Linked DNA regions of Homo sapiens: region 2 is linked to region 1. Evidence: fine-mapped expression QTL. Tissue or cell type: whole blood. Region 1 holds a variant in brackets; the other region holds the start of a gene. All regions are shown on one strand. Distances are between the middles of the regions.

The links. PIP is the estimated chance that this variant, and not a neighbour inherited with it, causes the effect.
Region 2: STK26 starts here. The variant in region 1 is fine-mapped to the expression of STK26 in whole blood (TOPMed, PIP above 0.99).

What each region holds. Positions count from the first base shown.
Region 1 is chrX:131,925,397-131,930,550 of GRCh38, forward strand. No RefSeq gene overlaps it. Among named protein-coding and RNA genes, the nearest start is that of STK26, 95 kb to the right of the region's middle. The variant G/A (reference allele first, on the strand shown) is at 2,813.
Region 2 is chrX:132,020,659-132,025,812 of GRCh38, forward strand. STK26 (serine/threonine kinase 26) reads left to right here and starts at 2,644. Exons shown (of 12, transcript NM_016542.4): 1 at 2,644-2,749; 2 at 2,850-3,001. The coding sequence starts at 2,960. RefSeq lists enhancers at 2,192-2,738, 2,226-2,275, 2,726-2,885, 2,739-3,286, 3,256-3,325 and a silencer at 2,436-2,685.

The sequences.
Region 1 (5,154 bases):
ACCAAAACAGAACCTCATTAAAGCATAAATCACAGAGGATCTATAAAACAAAAATACAAGTTAAAAAGCAAAACAAAACAAAACAAAACAAAAACCTCAAACTACACAGGCAACAAAGAGCATGATGAAAGCAACTATACCTCATATTTCAATAATAACATTGAATGTAAATGCTGTAAATGTCCCACTTAAAAGATTCAGAACAGCAGAATGGATAAGAACTCACCAAACAACTATCTGCTGCCTTCAGGAGACTCACCTAACACATAAGGACTCACATAAACTTAAAATAAAGGAGTGGAAAAAAGGCATTTCATGCAAATGCACACCAAAAGCGAGCAGGGGTAGCTATTCATATATCAGACAAAACAAAAAGCAACAGCGGTGAAAAGAGGGACAGTATATAATGGTAAAAGAGGGACAAAGAGGGACAATACATAATGGTAAAAGGCCTTGTTCAACAGGAAAATATCACAATCTTAAACATATATGCACCTAACAAATGGAGCTCCAAAATTTATAAAACAATTACTAACAGACCTAAGAAATGAGATAGACAGTAACACAATAATAGTAGGGGATTTCAATACTCCACTGACAGCACTAGACAAGTCATCAAGAAAGAAAGTCACCAAAGAAACAATGGGTTTAAACTATACCTTGGAACAAATGGACTTAACAGATATATACATAACATTTCATCCAACAACCGCAGAATACACATTCTACTCAAGAGCACATGGAACTTTCTCCAAGATAGACAATATGATAGGCCATAAAATGAGTCTCTATAAATTTAAGAAAATTGAAATTATATCAAGCACTCTCTCAGACCATGGTAGAATAAAACTGGAAATCAACTCCAAAAAGAACCTTCAAAACCATGCAAATACATGGAAATTAAATAACCTGCTCCTGAAAGAGCACTGGGTCAAAAACAAAATCAAGATGGAAATTAAACAATTCTCCGAACTGAATGACAATAGTGACACAGCCTATGATAACCTCTAGGATACAGCAAAGGCAGTGCTAAGAGGAAAGTTCATAGCCATAAACGCCCATATCAAAAAGTGTGAAAGAGCATAAACAGACAATCTAAGGTTACACCTCAAGGAACCAGACAAACAAGAACAAACAAAACCCAAACCCAGCAGAAGAAAGGAAATAACCAAGATCAGAGCAGAACTAAATGAAATTCAAAACCAAAAAAATACAAAAGATAAATGAAACAAAAAGCTGGTTCTTTGAAAAGATAAATAAAAAGGAAAGACCATTAGCAAGATTAAACAAGAAAAGAAGAGAGAAAATCCAAATAATGTCACTAAGAAACAAAACAGGAGATATTACAACTGACACCACTGAAATACAAAAGATCATTCAAGGCTACTATGAACACCTTTATGCACATAAAATAGGAAACCTAGAAGAGATGTATAAATTCCTGAAAAAATAAAATCCTCCTAGCTTAAATCAGGAAGAATTAGATATCCTGAACAGACCAATAACAAGGAGTGAGATTGAAATGGTAATTAAAAAATTACCAACAAAAAAAATCCAGGACCAGATGGATTCACAGCAGAATTTTACCAGACATTCAAAGAAGAATTGGTACCTATCCTTTTGACACTATTATACAAGACAGAGAAAGAAGGAACCCTCCCTAATTCATTCTATGAAGCCAGCATCACCCTAATACCAAAACCAGGAAAGGGCATAACCAAAACAGAAAACTATAGACTGATATCCTTGATGAACATAGATGCTAAAATCCTTAACAAAATACTAGCTAACAGAATTCAAAAACATATCAAAAAGATAATCCACCATGATCAAGTGGGTTTCATACCAGGGATGCAGGTATGGTTTAACATACGCAAGTCAATAAATGTGATACACCACATAAACAGAATAAAAAAGAAGAATCACATGATCATCTCAACAGATGCAGAGAAAACATTTGAAAAAATCCAGTATCCCTTTATGATTAAAACTCTCAGCATAATTGGCATAAAAAGGACATACCTCAATGTAATAAAAGCCATCTATAACAAACCCACAGCCAACATAATACTGAATGGGGAAAAGTTGAAAGCATTCCTTCTGAGAACTGGAACAAGACAAGGATGCCCGCTCTCACCACTCCTCTTCACCATAGTACTGGAAGTCCTAGCCAGAGCAATCAGACAAGAGAAAGAAATAAAGGGCATCCAAATCGGTAAAGAGGAAGTCAAACTGTCACTATTTGCTGATGATATGATCGTTTACCTTGAAAACCCTAAGGACTCCTCTAGAAAGCTCCTAGAACTGATAAAATAATTCAGCAAAGTTTATGGATACAAGATTAATCTACACAGATCAGTAGCTCTTCTATACACCAACAGCCACCAAGCAGAGAGTCGAATCAAGAACTCAACCCCTTTTACAATAGCTGCAAAACAATAAAATACTTAGGAATATACCTAACAAAGGAGTTGAAAGTCCTCTACAAGGAAAACTATGAAACACTGCTGAAAGAAATCATAGATGACACAAACAAATGGAAACACATCCCATGTTCATGTATGGGTAGAATCAATATTGTGAAAATGATCATCCTGACTAAAGCAGTCAACAAATTCAATGCAATCCCCATCAGAATACCACCACCATTCTTCACAGAATTAGAAAAAATGATTCTAAAATTCATATGGAACCAAAAAAGAAAAAGAAAAACACGCATAGCCAAAGCAACACTAAGCAAAAAGAACAAATCTGGATGCATCACACTACCTGATTTCAAACTATACTATAAGGCCATAGTCACCAAAACAGC[G/A]TGGTACTGGTATAAAAATAGGCACATAGACCGATGGAACAGAATAGAGAACCCAGAAATAAAGCTGAATACTTACAGCCAACTGATCTTTGACAAAGCAAACTAAAACATAAAGTAAGGAAAGGACACCCTTTTCAACAAAAAAAGAGAAAGTTTAGGTTATTAATTTGAGACTTTTCTTCTTTTGTAATATAGACATTTAAAGCTATACATTATTCTCCAACCACTTCATTAGATGCATTCCATAGGTTTTGAACTCTTATGTCGTTTTTTAAGTTTTAATTTCTGTGGGTACATATTACATGTATATTTATGGGGTATATGGAATATTTTGATACAGACATGCAGTGTGTAAAAATCACATAAGGGTAAATGGGGTATCCATCACCTCAAGCATTTATCCTTCGTATTACAAACAATCCAATTATATTCTTTTATTTATTCTTTTTTAAAAAAATTTTTGAGACAGATTCTCGTTCTCTTGCCAGGCTGGAGGGTAATGACATGATCTTGGCTCACTGCAACCTCCAACTCCTGGGTTCAAGCGATTCTCCTGCCTCAGCATCCTGAGTAGCTGGAATTACAGGCATGTGCCACCATGCCTGGCTAATTTTTGTATTTTTAGTAGAGACAGGGTTTCACCATGTTGACCAGGTTGGTCTCAAACTCCTGACCTCAAATGAACCACCCATCTCAGCCTCACAAAGTTCTGGGATTACAGGCATGAGCCAATGCACATGGCCTATTCTCTTTTAGTTACTTTATTTTTCTGTAAGTTATTGGGATACAGGTGGTATTTGGTTACATGAATAAGTTGTTTAGTGGTGATTTGTGAGATTTTGGTGCACCTATTACCCAAGCAGTATACACTGCACCATATTTGTAGTCTTTTATCCCTCGCCCCCTCCCACTCTTTCCCCCAAGTTGCCAAAGTCCATTGTATCATTCTTATGCCTTTGTGTCCTCATAGCTTAGCTCCCACATATCAGTAAGAACATACGATGTTTGGCTTTCCATTCCTGAGTTACATCGCTTAGAGTAAGTGCTGTTGGGGAGGTTGGCCAATGACTGCTCTAATTGCTTCCCGCTAAATTGGGGTGTAGTAGGGGTCGTGCAGTTGAGATTTCCTCGGAAGCCGTGCCTTCAATGTCATCAACATCAGAGCATGGGCTAGCAGGCCGGTCCAGGGGTCCGTGGTAGATCTTAGCCATGGACTGCATCTGGGGCTCTATTTTAAGAAGCATTTGTAGTTTTACAGCTTCGATTCTGCAAGAGACAAGCTTAACAAGGAGGTTAAAGATACAGGGATTGAAATGTATGGCCTGAAGTGCAGGGTCATATAGGTGTGGGTGGTGAAAATGGGGTTTCCTTTAGAAAAACTCCTATACGATGGGTCATCAATATTTCCAGGAAGCCGCATTCTCCATAGAAGCTCTTGGTAATGGGAGCTACTGGTAGTACAGTGGCATGGAGGGGGTTCAGTGAGAGTGAAAGGGGGTAAGAGAACAGTAAAGAAAAAAATATGACAAGGAGGGCCATGAGGATCTACGATTCTAGTTACTTTCCTCACGGTTGTCGCTTGAAGAGCAGGTGCAGATCCTCTAGAGGTTCACAGGAATAGCTAGCGTTGTCTCCTGGATTTTCGGGTTCCTTTGGCAGTATACAGAGTTTGACTCGAGTGTGATGTATTCAAGACTCCACTCCAGCCACTTTAACCGCAGTTGGGGTAGATAAAATGACTGGGTAGGGTCCTTCCCAGGATGTATCTAAGGATGGGGACTTAGAAGGAAGGGACTTGACTAATACCATGTCACCAGGGTGCAATAATTACTTTCCCTCTTCTCGGGAACAGGTTCCCTGTAATGTTTTAAGAACTTGTTGATATTTGGCCAAGGAGGTGATGTCTGCAACTAAGCTGGCCATCTCTCGGTCAAGCACAAGGTCCTTGGTTAGGAAGGGCCATCCATACAGCATTTTGTATGGGCTAAGTCCTGCTTTTTGGGGAGAGTTTTGGATTCTTAGTAAGGCTGTAGGCAACAGAGCAGGCCATGCAAGGTGGGTTTCTTGGGTTAGCTTTTTTAAATGTCGTTTGAGTGCTTCATTCATTTTCTTGACTTTTCCTGAGGATTGTGGCCTCCAGGCGCAGTGTAAGTGATATTGTATGCCTAATGCCTGGGATACTCCCTGGGTTACTGTAGCCTTGAAAACGGGGCCATTGTCACTCTGTAAGCCTCGGGGAAGTCCGAATCTGGGAATTATTTCATGAATTAGTGCCTTTATTACATCTTGGTCCTTTTCTGTCCTACAAGGGAAGGCCTCTGCCCAACCAGTGAAAATATCTA
Region 2 (5,154 bases), 95 kb after region 1:
CTAATGCTCATAAAATTTGAATTGTTTTCAAATGTTGACACCTTCACAAGATTTAATTTATAGATACACACACACACACAGACACAGACACACACACACACACACACAGGAAAAATCATTTAAAAGCCCACAAGCAATCCCATGTAAAAACTCAAGTGATCTCTATCAATTATAACAACAACTGATGCTTTATTTAATAGCAGTAAACCTAAATAAAGGCTAAAAAGCTCACTAAGATCTCAAATGCAATGTCTTTCAGGAAATGTCTCAATATTCCAGGTCTCAGCATTAAGCTTTTATTCTTCCACATAGTTACATAACTCTGGCCCAGAATGATGTCAGAGAAAGTCATTTCTCTGATATGCTTAATTTACTTATCTATCAAAATTATACAACTGGCTCATAAGTAGTTGTGAAATTAAACTAGCAGGAAAGAATTTTGGAGACTAAATAATGAAAGATGTAACACACAATAAACTGAACAATTTAAATGTTCAGTAAGGGCAATGCCTAGGGGTTTAACCTGACATCAATAAAATATATAGTGTATACATTATGCACCTAGTAACCTCAGTGGAGAATTCAAAAGAAGTTCATTCATTCATTCAACAATTATTTATTGAGGGCCTACTACATGCCATGAACCTAGTCTCTGGGGATACAGCAATGGACAAAATGTATAAAAAGCTTGCCCTCAGACTCCTGCCATCCTACCTGAATCATTCTCATGTAAGAGAGGCTGGATCTCTGCCCTCAAGGACCTAATATGGGCACACAAAACAAATGAAATATATGAAATAAGAAGAAAGAACTACAGTGTGAGCGCTGCTCACATTGGAGGAGTTTGAAGGAGGGCTTGGAGCAACTAGGAAGGGTCAATGGAGGTGAGATTTGAGACAGGTCTTAAATGATGGAGCTTGATTCAGACCCTTGCGACTTAAAAGTGTGATCTAAACATCATCACCATGTGAGAGCTTGTTAGCATTGCAGAATCTTGGGCCCAGTCCAGACATGGGAGATAAAAATCTGCGCTTTTGAGGGAGCAAAAGAACCCTCGGATTTCTATGGACATTAAAAGTTTAGGTGGCACTGCAGGTTTCCGGTCAGGCTGGCAATGTTGTGAGCTGGGTTGGTGGGAAATCGAGACTAGATTGGAGCCTAACATTAGGTTAGAAATAGTGAAGGGCTGGACTTGGGGAACTAGGAGTAAGGAAAATGCAATTGTACCTTTTATCATCATTAAACACAAACAGAAACCATAGAGAAAGTAGTAAGTTTATCACCAGTCAGAGGGACCTGCGTCTGAATTCCCAGCTGTACCACTTCTTAATTGCGTGACATTTCGGTCAAATTATTTAACCTGGTTGAGCCTTTTTCTTCATCTGTAAAATGAGGGGAAATCAATAAGACTCCAGAAGGCCCTTGTACAGGTTCAGTAAGGTATTAATAACACATAGAAAGCACTTAGCAGTCCCTGGCACAATGAAAATAATATCCATTAATAATAACGATATTGATAAGAATTATATACTATTCTCTGAAAAAGATTTAAAAGGAAGAAGAGAAACTATCTTTTACCACTAGAGGCCCCCCACCGTGTGGTGCGTAGAGACCCATAACAAATTTCAAGGTAAGGAACTTCATCTTCATTTTAAACTGGCACTCGACTATTACTTTTTTAAAAAGTAATTAACCCCTTACGTGTTCCCAAAGGTGCCTTCATAATGAAATTCCTGTTACTATTATTACCAGTGTTACTGTCGCTACTGTTAGAGTACTCTCAAAAGAGCCTGTCTCCCTCTCCTGGAGTAGAACTTAAAATGGGGCGGAGGCAGGGAGTTACCAAAACCACTGCAGTGTATGCTGATTTCAATAACCTGTACTGCTAACGATCCAATCTCATTTCCCAAGCCTCTACTATCCTCATTAATTTTTCTGCCGATGTACCATCTGTTTTCCAATTTCCCTCTGCCTTACACGTGCAGAACTTGTGGTAGAGAGAAGCCCTAGTTTGGCCGTTCTGCAAGGGATAGCCCAGGAGGTAGGGGGAACCTTAAGTTGAAGTCACCTGAAGCATGTTTGGGGTCAGGGAACTCGGAAAGCAAGAGTGTGGCCACAGATCTGCCCAGAGGCGCGACCCCCAGCTGAGGAGACCAGATGGCGGGAAAAAGCGGGGGTCCACCGACTCCGCGGCTATCTGTAATCCTACCCTTGGCCAGGCCGGGGAGCCAAGAAAGACTTCCAACACTCCCCAAGTTTCAGCTCAAGTCGTCTCCGAGGCTGCGTGTGCCCCAGCCTCGCACGCCTCCCTGCAACGTGGCCGCATCTGGGGCGCCCTCATACCCTCAGGGTTTCCCAAACTCTTCCATTCTCTTCCCAGGCCCAGCCATGTCCCAGGTCTCCGGGTCCCCGGGTTCTCCTCTCCGCGTGCCGGGAGAGTCTCCAGCTTCTCAGACTCCAGCAACCCCAGCCAAACCTCTTCGCTGCCTGGAGCCTTGGCTCCCGCGACACCGCCCGGCTGCGGGGCGGGGGCAGGGCCAACGGCGGAACCGCCCCCAACCGCCTCCCAGGCCAGGCGAGCAGGCGGGTGGCTGGGGCGCCTCCACCTCCTCTTCCTAAAGCGGCGAGGCGCAGAGGAGCGGCATCACTCGAGCCCAGGTCCCAGCCACCACCACTCACAGCGCTCGGCGTTCAGGAAGAGGAGCAGCAGCGGAGGCGGCTGCTTCAGCGGCGGGCGGGCGCCAGAAAGGTAGACTGAGTCCCAGGGAGCTGCGCCGCTAACAGCCCACCTCCTAGCCCCGGGCTACGCGCCGCCAGCCCAGTAACCCCACTTTTGTGTGTCCTCCCAGGCCCCGATCGAAAAGCCTGGGAGGGCCGCCGAACTACCCCCGGAGGGAGGAGCCAGTCCGAACCCAAGGCGCCACCGCCGCAGAAGCGGAGCGAGGCAGCATTCGCCTCCATGGCCCACTCGCCGGTGGCTGTCCAAGTGCCTGGGATGCAGGTGAGGAAGCGCAGGCCGCCCCCGCCGCCCACGTGACTGCTTGGGAGCCCGGTGCGCCCTCGGTGCTGGGCACCGGCGACAAGGGACGGCCCCAGGGCTCCCCTGAGGGCAGGGCCGGTCACTATGGCCAGGTGACCTGGGAGTAGGGCTGGAGGTGTTTCCTGGTGTGTAGGCTAGGTAGTGCTCTTCGCTGGGAAGGCGAGGCGGGACTGGAGCGCGCAACTAGGTGGAGATTGAGGGCGGTTGGGGGTATAAAAATAGGCCAGAGCCACAGACACCTGCGCCTGCTGAGCTTGGCACGGTTGGGGATGGGGGGGCGGAACTTAACCTGGGAGAGATGGAAGTGCCTTGGAATTTGTGGGGTATAACGCGAGTAGTGAGTGCCCTACACCCCCCACCCCAAACACACACTCAAGTTGGGGCGGGGCAACACCAGGGGTGGCGGCGGCGGCGGCTTGAATTGGGCTCTTCCTGTGTGCGTAGGGCTAAGAGAGAGGTGACCTCTTTCTCCCTTTCGGTACTGCTGCTTAAGGGCAAAGTTGTAGCTTGCTCCCCGACCTAGCCCAGCCCATAGTGTGGCGTGAGAAATGCTGGTTCTGTTCAGAGTCACTGAGGTGATGACTTCTCAGCCCCCTCCGTGCCTTTCCCACAAGATGACTGTTACATGTGGTTAAAGGAAGCTTTTTGTCTTGGACAAGGGACTACTGCATGGGACCCAACTTGTTACTCGAAGTCTACCCAGCCCAACCCCCTCCCATTATATTTTCATTTTATTAAAGATAAGCTATGTCAGAAAACTTTTTATGCTGTTATGTTTTTAAATCGGTGCATTTTAGGCTATCTGCTAAGTGTTATCCAAATTTACTAACTTTTTAAAGCATTCATGTTCTATTTTTTTTTCCTTTGCTAGATGGCCTAAACAACCCATTTAGGGGCTAAAACCACTGAAGCCTCAGTCTTTCATGATCTAAAATGTGAAAACAAACTTTTTTGAAGTTCAAAAATAAAATGTTTATAGTAAATAGCTTATATTTCTAGTAGAAATCAAAGAGCTGTAGACTGGGGCCTCAATTTACTTATTGATACATGGAGTTTTTTTTTTTTTTTCAGTGTTCTCATTTTATGAATGTCCACAAAAGTGATTTTTAAATTCTTTCCCAAAATGGGATTTATTTGTGCACCTAGAACTCTTGGTGTGTCCTAAACACCAGACATTTCAGCTGCATTTAGGGCAAGTCTGGGTTGAGTCTCAGGAAGTTAGTGTATATTAAATAAAGAGAGAGAGAGAAAGGGAAATAGGAAATAGTAGGGCTTAAAAAAAAAGATTAATCCACTCAAGCCTTGCAAAATGCCTTAAACTTTCTTCCTCTCAGGCGGCCTCCCCTCTCCTTCCCTCCTTCTTTTCCCCACGCACCCTGCCCCACACCCCATTCATTCAGTTCTGCCTTTGATTGTATCAAGGGAATTCATAGTTCACAATACTAAGTACAGTTTTGCTGTTTGATCTGGGAAAAAGTGACATTTTCTCACCGTGCTCTTCTTTCCATTCTGTGGAGAGTAAAACGATGCACATGTGAAGTTTGTCTCTGAGGGTCTCCATGCTTCTCGCTCCATTGTGTGCGCGAGCCTGCGTGTGTGCGTCAGCAGAGTGAGTGCCTCCAGTTCATCAAGTTTGTGATTCTGGGGAACTCTGTGTGCTGAGGGGAAAATGGTTTCTGATTTTTATTTTATTTGTCTTGAACTTATTGAATTTATATGGTTTAGGAACTGCTTGCTGTTCAGTATTTCTGATTGCTCCCTGCTTTTAATTATCTGAGTTGCCTATCTCTTGAATTTTTAAATCTTAATTAATGTGGATTCGAATGTGAATCATATACTTTAAATTACAAATTCTGCCTTTCACTCTGTGCCCTCTGAGTTGTGATTACTTTGTCCCACCTAATTTGAGTAGGGCAAACATCTCAACGTTAGCAAAGAAGAGAGGAATCTTTTTTTTTTTTTTTTTTGGTCATTCTCTTCATCTTAATGAAATGGTAAATTCTTAACTTCTTATTTCCATTTTATTTCTAATGTAGTTCTTAAGCACTTTGTGCAGCACACAGTTTTTTCCATAGTTGAAAATGTACAATACCTTAATAATAAATTTGATAGCA